Homo sapiens: one gene and its partners. The protein of the gene in region 2 interacts with the protein of the main gene of each other region in a pairwise test. Each region holds a gene or a part of one and is shown on either strand. Other genes may lie near its edges.

Region 1 (3,178 bases), on a different chromosome or scaffold from region 2:
AACTAATTTATTCCTCAGGTCAAAAGTTTTGGGGTGGTTGGTCTGGAAGCATTCATAAATAGAACCATAAAGTTGGCCCTACTAAACATTTCAACTGCTACTATAACCTGGCCCTCAATCCCCCTACACACAAACACAGTTTATTCATGAGGATAGATGCCTTGTGAAAGGCCAGAAGTGAGCCATTAAACTACAATTACAGTTTCCAATAGAAACCTCAGTACAGGGATGGAATGGTTCAACATGCGGCTGAGACCCCACTACCCTTGCAATTTTCTGTGCTAAGCAACTACAGCATATTGAAGGCCCACATGCACCCTCCACTTCCTACTCCCCTCAATTTATAATGGTGATGAGGCATTTCTGGCTTCAGTTTCAACTACGTGTGGCAAACATCTCTAAGTAGACTGAACAGTTAGTAAGTTAGGTTAAGATATTAAAATGGGGAGCAGGGTCCACATCCCTGTTGAAATAGGAGCCTGCCTGGTAACAGGTGCAAAGCATGCCTTTAACTGCAACTAACCAGTTCAGTTGTGTGGCTTCTCACTGCAGGGGCGGCAAAGGAAGAAATCCTGAGTTACACCCTCACCTGAAGGAACAGACCTCACAAGAGAAGCAAATAAACATTTTATTTCCACAGCACGCCTTCCCTTTTCCCAAAGAACATGAGTTCACCTCAGCCATCAAAGCAGAGGGCGAAAGCTGCAAGTGACAAGGCAAGAGGCTCCTAGAAAAATAGATTATACCCAAGGCTCTCCTCCTGGGGACCCAAACCCGTCCCCAGGCTCCCCCTCAGAGCTTGCCAAATGGAGTGAAAGGCATGGAAAGGGGCTGGGAGAAAAGCCAGCTCCACTGAACAAAGGGGAGAGGAGCCTGGCAGTGAGCAGACCTGGGAGGGGTGTGGGGTGGGATGAGCTTTGCTCCTTGGTTGAGTGCTGGAAAAGGGAAGGGGGAAGAAATAATTTATGTTGATGTAATTAATGTAATGATGATGTAATGGTGCGTGGTTTCAATCATGGCGACCATTCCAGATCTCTCTCAAGTGAAGCTAAATTCTGGCCGGTCTATGGAGGTAGAAATTGAGGACGGAAGGAAAGTTTAGAATCCCTCCTCCCCAGGAGAATAGACATTTATTACCCAGCTCTACCCTTTGGCCCAGCCTGCCTCCCCAAATGGCTTCCAAATCCCTCAGCTAAAATCTGCATCAGAAAATGGAATTGGAATGGGGATGTTGCCTTGCCCAAACCCTCCAGCCTCAGAACTGATAAAGAGGTTGAAGAGCAGGGGTGGGGAAAAGGAAGTTAAGGAATGAAATTACAATTTCCCCTCATCCCCTACTCAAATTCCAGTCCCAGGGCTGGGCTAGGCAGACTGGGAGAGAAGACCAGGCAGCTGTTCTCATTATCAGGGACCCATGCAGACCTGTTGGACAGACATAGTAGGTGAGAGAAGGCTGAGCTGGAGGCCAGGAGGGTTCTTTAGGCTCCTAGAGGGAGAAGCAGGGGCCTGGGGTCAAGGGGGAGTGGGAAGCAACACAGTAACAAGCAGTGGGAAGAGCCTTTGAGCCCTCAAACTTACGGGCCACCCTCCACCACCCACCCCCCAAGTGCTGACAGAGGGGCCCCTGCGGGTGGCAGGATAATCAAGGGCAGAGCTTGATGCGGGTGCCCTTGGAGAGCACCCGGAAGAAAGGAAAGACACGCTCGCCCAGGAAGGCAGCCGAGAAGGTGTGCACGTGGGCTAGAGTCTCTGCGTTGTAGAAGCCCAGGCGCCCAGCTTCATAGTCCAGGTACACACCAAAGCGCCTTGGTTTCTCACTGGGGCTCAGCAGCGTCTGTTCTGTGGAGCTCTGGGCCTGATAGCGTTTGCCGTTGGTGCCCACGCACCACACTTCCCGCTGGAGCAGGGGCTGCTGGGGCAGGTGGAGCCGGCGGCGGCGATGGTGATGGCGCGAGGAGCTGGCATCCCCGCTGCCCACGGAGGAACCCCCAGGGCCCACCTTTTCCTTATGATGGGTTGATTCACGGGCAGCACCCACCGCCCAGCCCCGCCGCCCGCCCACCTCTACCTCCCAGTAGTGCCGGCCGGAGCGGAAGCCCTGGGCCCCCAGTACGCAGCAGTCGGCCGAGAAGCGCTTGGGATGGTCAGCAACCTCCTGCCGCCGCTCTGCCAGGCGGACCCCCCGGCGGTCAGGGGACAGCATCAGGGCCGGGTGAGCCGTGTCAGGGTCCAGCGTCAGGTCCACTTGGGAGGGAGGGAGGACAAATACGCCAGGGCTGGAACGGCTGTTCCCCTGTCAGCAGCCAACTCCACAGATTGGGCCCCCTTTCTCCCTGAATCCAGCTCCCCACACCATCCCAGAGGCCAGCCTCAGATTCCTGCAGGCTCATCTTGCTCCTCACTCTTGTTCCTAGGATACCTGACAGGTCTTCCCCCAGCCTGGCTCTTCCTGCCACTCCACCCCACCCCACCCTCCAGGCCTGCCTGCACTAGGTCTACCTGCTCATGGCTTGAAACCTCAACCTCAGAGTGGCTGCCTGGATCCTGCTCCATCTCAAGCCCCACAGTTTCCCTGGGGCCCAACTTCCCTCAGGACCCAGTCTCAGGTCTGTGAAGGGAAAGGCAAAGGAAGGTCGTGGAGGTGACCTCCCTACCTCTCGCAGCCTGACAGAACATCCGGCTCATTTTCCTCACGATGGCATCTGTCAGGAAGTCATGGCTATGGGGTTGGCACGGGTCAGGGGACCAGACCTCTGGGGGCTGCAGCTGTACCTCTTCACACCTGGAGGAAGGGGACCGGGCAGGGGGTGGGACCACGATATTCCCAGAGGGAAAAGCAAAAGCTGAGGGGAAGGAGAGGAGGGTCCAGGAGATGGAAACTCAGGTCCTGGGGAAGGAAGGAGAGGAGAGGGATACCGAAGAGAAGCAGGGACAGGGAACCAGATGCCACTGGGTCACGAAGGGCAAAGACTGGGAACACACCTATTGAAAGTCTCCTTGATGTCCTGGGAATAAGAGAAACAAAAAGAGGGAGAGGGAGAAAGAGATAAAGAGAGTGTCAGCTGCACAGGGACAGCGTTCCCCGATCTCCAGTCAGAGACTGAACCTGAGCAGGAAGGGAGAAGCAGCACCCTCACGGCCCTCAATGAACACACATCCATTTCAACCACCCCATGCC
Region 2 (3,225 bases):
AGGGTGACCAGGCCTGGAGGCTGCAGTGCCCGGAACCCAGGCCAGCTTCCCGGCAGGTGACTCTGTAGGGTGGGCTCTCCCAGGTGGGACAGTGGGTGGGTTGGTCCTGGGGCCTGGAGAGCCCCACAGCCCAGGGCACTACAGCGAATGACCAGGCTCAGGAAGACCCGGTCACAGGGGCTGAGCCGGGACTGAGCCTTCCTGGGAGTGACCGTGAGTCCCACCTGGTGACCCCCTGGAGGAGTTAGGCCACTGTCCCTTGTGACTTCTAGGTTAAGTAACTCACTCCTAGAAACGGTCATGGCTGGAGGAGACCAATGTCAGCTCAAAACCGTGTGTCCTCCCAGGAGAACAACAGGAAAAGAGAATCAGGTGACCAAGGAGAGTTTATTGGGGAGTAGGAGGAGGTGCTGAGAGGTTCAAGTCGAGGCCAAGTGACCCAGAGCAGAGAAGCTGGGAGGGAGGACAGGGGACCCAGCAGGCAGGTGGGCACCTGCTGGAAGGCAAGAGCTGGGGAGCAGTGAGGATGGAGGCTCCTGGGAGTAAGGAGGGAGAGGTCACCTCAGCACAGGGGAGACATGGAGACCCCATCCCAGGTAGGGGCAGCCACTTAACCCAGGACAGGACCGGAGCCGGCTGGCCCTGGGGGACGTGCCCATCAGCAGCTGGACTCCTGGCCTGAGCAGAGGCCTCAGCAGGCCAGGCGGGAGCACGCGGGGCGGCAGAGGAAGGACAGGCAGGAGGCCGGGTGGCAGCAGCTGGGCTGGCAGGAGGAGGCAGGGACACAACAGGAGGGGACAGGCACACAGCAGGCAGGCCGGCACACAGGGCGGCAGAGGAGGGACACGGAGGAGGAGGGTCTGCAGCAGGAGGTGGTGCAGCAAGCCGGCTGGCAGCTAGACTTCTGGCAGCACAGAGAGGAAGCCCCAGAGCAGACAGGCACACAGCAGATGGGCTTGCAGCAGATGGGCACACAGCAGGCCTGTTGGCATGGGGAGAAGGTGCAGCAAGCTGACTGGCAGCTAGACTGCTGGCAGCATGGGGAGGAAGCTCCAGAGCAGATGGACACGCAGCACACGGGCTTGCAGCAGTTGGACTTGCAGCACACAGGCACACAGCAGGCCTGTTGGCAGGGGGAGGAGGTGCAGCAAGCCGGCTGGCAGCTAGACTGCTGGCAGCATGAAGGTGTGCAGGAGTCGGTGCAGCCTGATTGGCAGGGGCTGGGCTCACAGCTCACTGGGGCACAGACCAGGGCCAGGCAGGGGGCTGGGGCACAGCAGCTAGGGGTACAGCAGCTGGAGGCACAGGAGCGGGGCTCGCAGCAGCTTTCCTGGCAATTGTCCACCTGCCAGGAGGAGCCAGTGCAGGTGCTGGGGGAGGAGACTCGGCTGACATGGCCCACGTCACTGGAGCAGACAGACATGGTGGATGCAGCAATCACATACGTCCTGGTGCAGCAGGCGTCAGCCATGGTGGGTGCTGGACTGGGTGGTGTGAGTGCTGGTGTGAGGTGTGTGGGTTTGTGTGCCCTGGCTGCTGAGGTTTTATACCCTCCCTGGGTATTTTCCTCACAGGAGTCTCACAAGCCTTCCCTTTCCTTGTTGTGGCTGAGACTTTGCCTCCAGGCAACCCTAATTAGTTTACTTGCTGTGGGATGTTACTGTGGTCCCAGGACTGCTGCATGTGGTTGGGTGATGCTGACCACTTGCAGGTGTCTGTGCCCTGCAACCACACACAGTGATGCTGCGTGTCTGCTGGTGGAGCTGGGAGTTGAACAGATCGTGAGTTGGCAAGTCTGGAAAACCCAGCCCCACTTTCCTCCTGTCTTTGCCTGTATGTCTTTGCTATTGGGGTATTTGGTACCAGGGGTGGGGTGTTTTTTTACCAGCAGATGTTCTCCACCTGTCCCAGAGTTCTGCTCCATTGAACAATGGGTGTCTCGGCTAGGAATGCCCCCTGGCTCCCCACCCTGCCACCCCTACCTGTTCCATCTGCAAACTATGGTGCGATGCCCCTGTATTAGTCCATTTTCACACTGCTGATAGAGACATACCCAAGACTGAGAGGAAAAAGGGCTTTAATTGGACTTACAGTTCCACATGGCTGGGGAGGCCGCAGAATCTTGGTGGGAGCTGACAGGCACTTCTTACATGGTGACAGCAAGAGAAAATGAGGAAGAAGCAAAAGCAGAAGCCCCTGATAAACCCATCAGATCTTGTGAGACTTATTCACTACCACTAGAATAGCACAGGAAAAGACCGGCCCCCATGATTCAATTATCTCCCCCTGGGTTCCTCCCACAACATGTAGGAATGCTGGGAGATGAAATTCAAGTCGAGATTTGGGTAAGGACACAGCCAAACCATATCATTCTGTCCCTGGCCCTTCCAAATCTTATGTCTTCACATTTCAAAACCAGTCATGCCTTCCCAACAGTCCCCCAAAGTCTTAACTCATTTCAGCATTAACCCAAAAGTCCACAGTCCAAAGTTTCATCTGAGACAAGACAAGTCTCTTCCACCTATGAGCCTGTAAAATCAAAAACAAGCTAGTTTCTTCCTAGATAAAATAGGGGTACAGGTATTGGGTAAATACAGCCATTCCAAATGGCAGAAATTGGCCAAAACAAAGGGATTTTACAGGGCCCATGCAAGTCCAAAATCCAGCAGGGGAGTCAAATTTTAAAGCTCCAAAATGATCTCGTTTGACTCCAGGTCTCACATCCAGGTCATAATGATGCAAGAGGTGGGTTCCCATGGTCTCGGACAGCTCCACCCCTGTGGCTTTGCAGGGTACAGCCTCCCTCCTGGCTGCTTTCATGGGCTGGTGTTGAGTGTCAGCAGCTTTTCCAGGCACATGGTGCAAGGTGTCAATAGATCTACCATTCTGGGGTCTGGAGGATGGTGGCCCTCTTATCACAGCTCCACTAGGCAGTGCCCCAGTAGGGACTCTGTGTGGGGGCCCTGGCCCTACATTTCCCTTCTGCACTGCCGTAGCAGAGGTTCTCCATGAGGGCCCCACCCCTGCAGCAAACTTCTGCCTGGGCATCCATGCGTTTCCATATATCTTCTGAAATCTAGGCGGAGGTTCCCAAACTTCAATTCTTGACTTCTGTGCACCTGCAGGCTCAACGCAACATGGAAGCTGCCAAGGCTTGGGGCTTCCACCCTCTGAAGCCACAGTCTGAGCTGTACATTGGCTCCTTTCACCCAGGCTGCATACAGC
Region 3 (3,750 bases), on a different chromosome or scaffold from region 2:
AATCCTTATATAGACGTCTGTCTACATGTTTGGTTATTTCTTTGGGGTAGTCTATGAAAAAGAATGAATGCTTCAAAGATAAAAACCTTCTCCCCTCTTTGGTATGTGAAGCTAGGTTTGGTTTAGGGGGCTTGGCACCTTTAAGAGTTTACTTTCACCAGACATACATCTACCTGCTTTACACAGTGACCCAGTGAGATCGGTGCTAAGATGATGCCCATTTTACAGAGGTGCAAACTGAGACATAGGGAGGCCAGTGTCACACAGTAAGCAGGAAAGCCTGTGCAATTCCAGCCACGCAGAGTCTGGAGTAGTTGGTCCCAAACAGGGCGTGTTTGCTCCTCAGGGACACTGCTAATATCTGGAAACATTTTTGATGGTCTCAGCTGGAGAGGGTACTGCTGTTGGTATGTAGAGGGCAGAGGCCAGGGATGCTGCCAAGCACCCTACGATGCAGAGGACAGCCCCCACAACCAGGGATCACCTGGTTGAACATGACAAGGTTGCTGGGGGTAAGAGACTCTGGTCTGGAACCCCATTTTTTACCAGCGTCCGCCAATACCTCTCTCATTTTTTTACATTAGTCCTATGGGATGCAGGGCAAAGGTAACAGCAGGAAACTCATCTAAGCAGGTCCCATTCCATCCCCTCTGACCTGCTCTTGGTGGTTGCGAGAGGATTTGCTTGTGAGAGGTTTATTGGAAGAGGATTTGAGAACTTACTTTCATTTGAAAGCTTACAGGATATTTATGACAGTCTTTCCTTACCTGCCTTCCCCCACAAAACCAACTTCTGCAGATACACAATCTAAGTAAGAAAAATCTGCTTACTTTGAAAACACAGCTTCAAGATAACCTCCCTAGATTTTTTTTTTTTTTTTTGAGACCGGGTCTCACTCTGTTGCCCAGGCTGGAGTGCAGTGGTGCGATCACTGCTCACTGCATTCTTGACTTCCTGGGTTCAAGTGATCCTTCCACCTCAGCACCCTCCCAAGTAGCTGGGACTACAGGTGTGCACCATCACGCCCAGCTATTTTTTGATTTTTTGTAGAGACGGGGTCTCACTATGTTGCCCATGCTGGTCTCAAACTCTTGGGCTCAAGCAATCCGCTTGCCTTAGCCTCCCAAAATGCTGGGATTACAGGCATGAGCCACTGCGCCTGGCCTAGTCGCCCTAATATTTATCACAAACTCCCTCACCCTCTTCCCCAAACAACTTCACATAAATCTACAATCTAGAAAACTCTGTAGGTTGGCTTTGCAGTTTCTAGACAACTCACCCAGCACCTTTTTTCTTGTGAGATGACACCCCTAAACCACTCCTCTACTGAATTTCTAGGGAAACGCCTGTGGCTGATGTAATCATCTGCTTTCTAAGGGCCAGGTCCCCTCTGCCTAAGCCCTCGGATCCCCAGCAGTGGAGGGACAAATGCAACTTGGCTAGTCACATCGCATGCTTTAGCATGTTTCAATTTAACCCTGAAATGGCTGTAAGGGAGGGAAACCTACCAGGATTAACACAGGAGAAGTTAATCCTCAGACTCTCCTCAAGCTCTGGCTGGCATTTGAACCCCGCTGCTTTCACAGCAGCTCTTTTCCCTGAGTCAGGTGCCTAAAGCCAACCCCTTGGGGGCTCTGTCCTTCAGGGACCAGAGCGGCAGCCCCCTCCTCCCCCGACTTCTGCCCGCCGTCTCACCTTCTCTCCACGGAGCTCTCCTTTGTGGCCTTGGGTCCCGAGGGAGAGGAAGATCCTGAACCTCTGTCCTTGCCTCTCCGAGGTCCCCTGGTCTGGCAGGGGGCTGTGAGTGTCTGGGCTGGAGAAAGACGGATAGGAAGAGTAGGGTGGCCTTTGAACAGGAATTGATTGCAAAACTGGTTTCGGTTAAGTGCTGCAGGAGAGAAAAAGCAAAGCTCTAGGGCTCTTCCAGGAAATCATGGGCTCCAGCTGTCACTTTCAGTTTCCTTTTTGCCAGTTTCTCTAATTGGATGAACAAGGAGGTGAAAGAGCAGAATCCAAGTCAGGAGGCCTGAGTCTCTCGTCTCTGTCCTGGCTGTGTTATAGGATGGACCTATATGGGGTATGAAAATAGCTCCTGTGGCTTAGAGCTATGGTGAGGAGCCCATGAGCAAGCGATGGGGCGCCTGTTGAATAGTGGATTCACAGTAGCTGTCATCACTGATTGTTCTGAAACTGCTTTCCTCCACAGCATCTTACGTGACGCTGATGTGGGTAACAACCCTATGAGGTGCACAGCATTAAAGGGCTAATAACTCTGAATGCAGAATCCTCTGAAAATGGAAACTTTATTTTATTATTATTATTATTATTGTTTTTTGAGATGAAGTCTCGCTCTGTTGCCCAGGCTGGAGTGCAATGGCACGATCTCGGCTCACTGCAACCTCCGCCTCCTACGTTCAAGCTATTCCCCTGTCTCAGCCTCCCTAGTAGCTGAGATTACAGGCACCTGCCACCACGCCCGGCTGATTTTTGTATTTTTAGTAGAGATGGGGTTTTGCCATGTTGGCCAGGCTGGTCTCAAACTGCTGACCTCAAATGATCCATCCATCTAGGCCTCCCAAAGTGCTGGGATTACAGGCGTGAGCCACCGCACCTGGCCTCAGAATGAAAACTTAAAAAAAAATGATAATTTATTCATTTAGTGGCAAAACCTGACCTGATCTGGCATGAATTCACCTGTGGTTTTTATGTCTCCTGCTTAATTTGAATATTTACAGTCACTGCAGAAATATTAATATGTTTGACTGAGGAGGGCTGCTGCGGGTGCGTGGGTTACATAGTACACGATACCTGCACCCCATTACCTTTCTAAAAATCCCCCAAATCAGGAACTCTGACATGCATCTGGCCTCAAGGATTGGAGATATAGGATTGTGATACTCTGTCTCCCACTTTAAGGAAGAGGAAACCCAGGCTTCTAGAAGTTGTGGGTTGTTTGTGATTACACAGCTAAGAACCAGTCCTAGGCTCTGTGTCTACAAGAATGAGCCCACAGTGAGGTTACGGGCTGAGATCTGTGTCTCTCTAGCATTTGTGTCAAATTGTGATCAGAAGCCATGTGGTTTGTTTGTATTTATATGCCCAGAAGTCCCCAGTCACCACCCCTAGCTGAGACCACATTGGAGGCTGTTGCTTTGCAGAAGGTGCGGCCCACCTAGCCAGTCCTGGCTTTGCTGTGATAGAGGCCACCTCCTGTCCCTGGGCCCTACGAGCAGGAATGAGGGGTTAAGGGCTGCTGAGTTGGGTCTTGTAGGGGCCTTTCCAACCGTGGCATCCCGGATTCCACAACCCACCCCTGCTCCTGGCCTCCCACACTTGGGGAACACGCTAAACACAGCCTGACCTTGAGGAGGACTTGGCTGCCTGGCTGGGGCCGCTGAGCCATCCCAGGCCTGCCTGTTGTTTTCCCTGGCAACGGACCCAGATGTTGTGGTCACTGCTCGGTCCTGGGAGTCTCAGGGGCCAGACCGGCCATTGGATGGGGGCAGTGTTTACCACCAGGGCTCTTGTGAAACAATCGCCCCAAGAGATGCCATGTGAGAAAAATGTTCTGTAGCCAAATGCAGGAAGTGCTGCTTATGTAAGGGGACAGAAAACATCCACCCTATAGCTCAGATGAACAAAAGTAGGGAGTCGCTTAATTTCCTAGAGTCCACTTCCCTTCCCTCAAGGGACCCAAGACCTGCTGAAAAGAAACAAACTTGCCTGAAGGCCCCTTAGTCTCTTGTGATT

What was found.
Region 1: the proteins of KRTAP10-8 (region 2) and TRIM41 interact in binary tests that used the Homo sapiens proteins (3 or more experiments, as listed by UniProt).
Region 3: the proteins of KRTAP10-8 (region 2) and APOL6 interact in binary tests that used the Homo sapiens proteins (3 or more experiments, as listed by UniProt).

What each region holds. Positions count from the first base shown.
Region 1 is NC_000005.10:181,233,240-181,236,417, reverse strand, and holds the end of TRIM41 (E3 ubiquitin-protein ligase TRIM41), read right to left. Parts: intron 3,006-3,178; coding exon 2,983-3,005; intron 2,783-2,982; coding exon 2,655-2,782; intron 2,245-2,654; coding exon 1,643-2,244; 3' UTR 1,487-1,642; coding exon of another isoform or gene 1,328-1,486; 3' UTR 1,065-1,327; coding exon of another isoform or gene 1,014-1,064; 3' UTR 610-1,013; downstream 1-609.
Region 2 is NC_000021.9:44,610,347-44,613,571, reverse strand, and holds KRTAP10-8 (keratin-associated protein 10-8), read right to left. Parts: upstream 1,494-3,225; 5' UTR 1,472-1,493; coding exon 692-1,471; 3' UTR 618-691; downstream 1-617. UniProt on the Homo sapiens protein: In the hair cortex, hair keratin intermediate filaments are embedded in an interfilamentous matrix, consisting of hair keratin-associated proteins (KRTAP), which are essential for the formation of a rigid and resistant hair shaft through their extensive disulfide bond cross-linking with abundant cysteine residues of hair keratins.
Region 3 is NC_000022.11:35,646,569-35,650,318, reverse strand, and holds the start of APOL6 (apolipoprotein L6), read right to left. Parts: upstream 1,874-3,750; 5' UTR 1,696-1,873; intron 1-1,695. UniProt on the Homo sapiens protein: May affect the movement of lipids in the cytoplasm or allow the binding of lipids to organelles.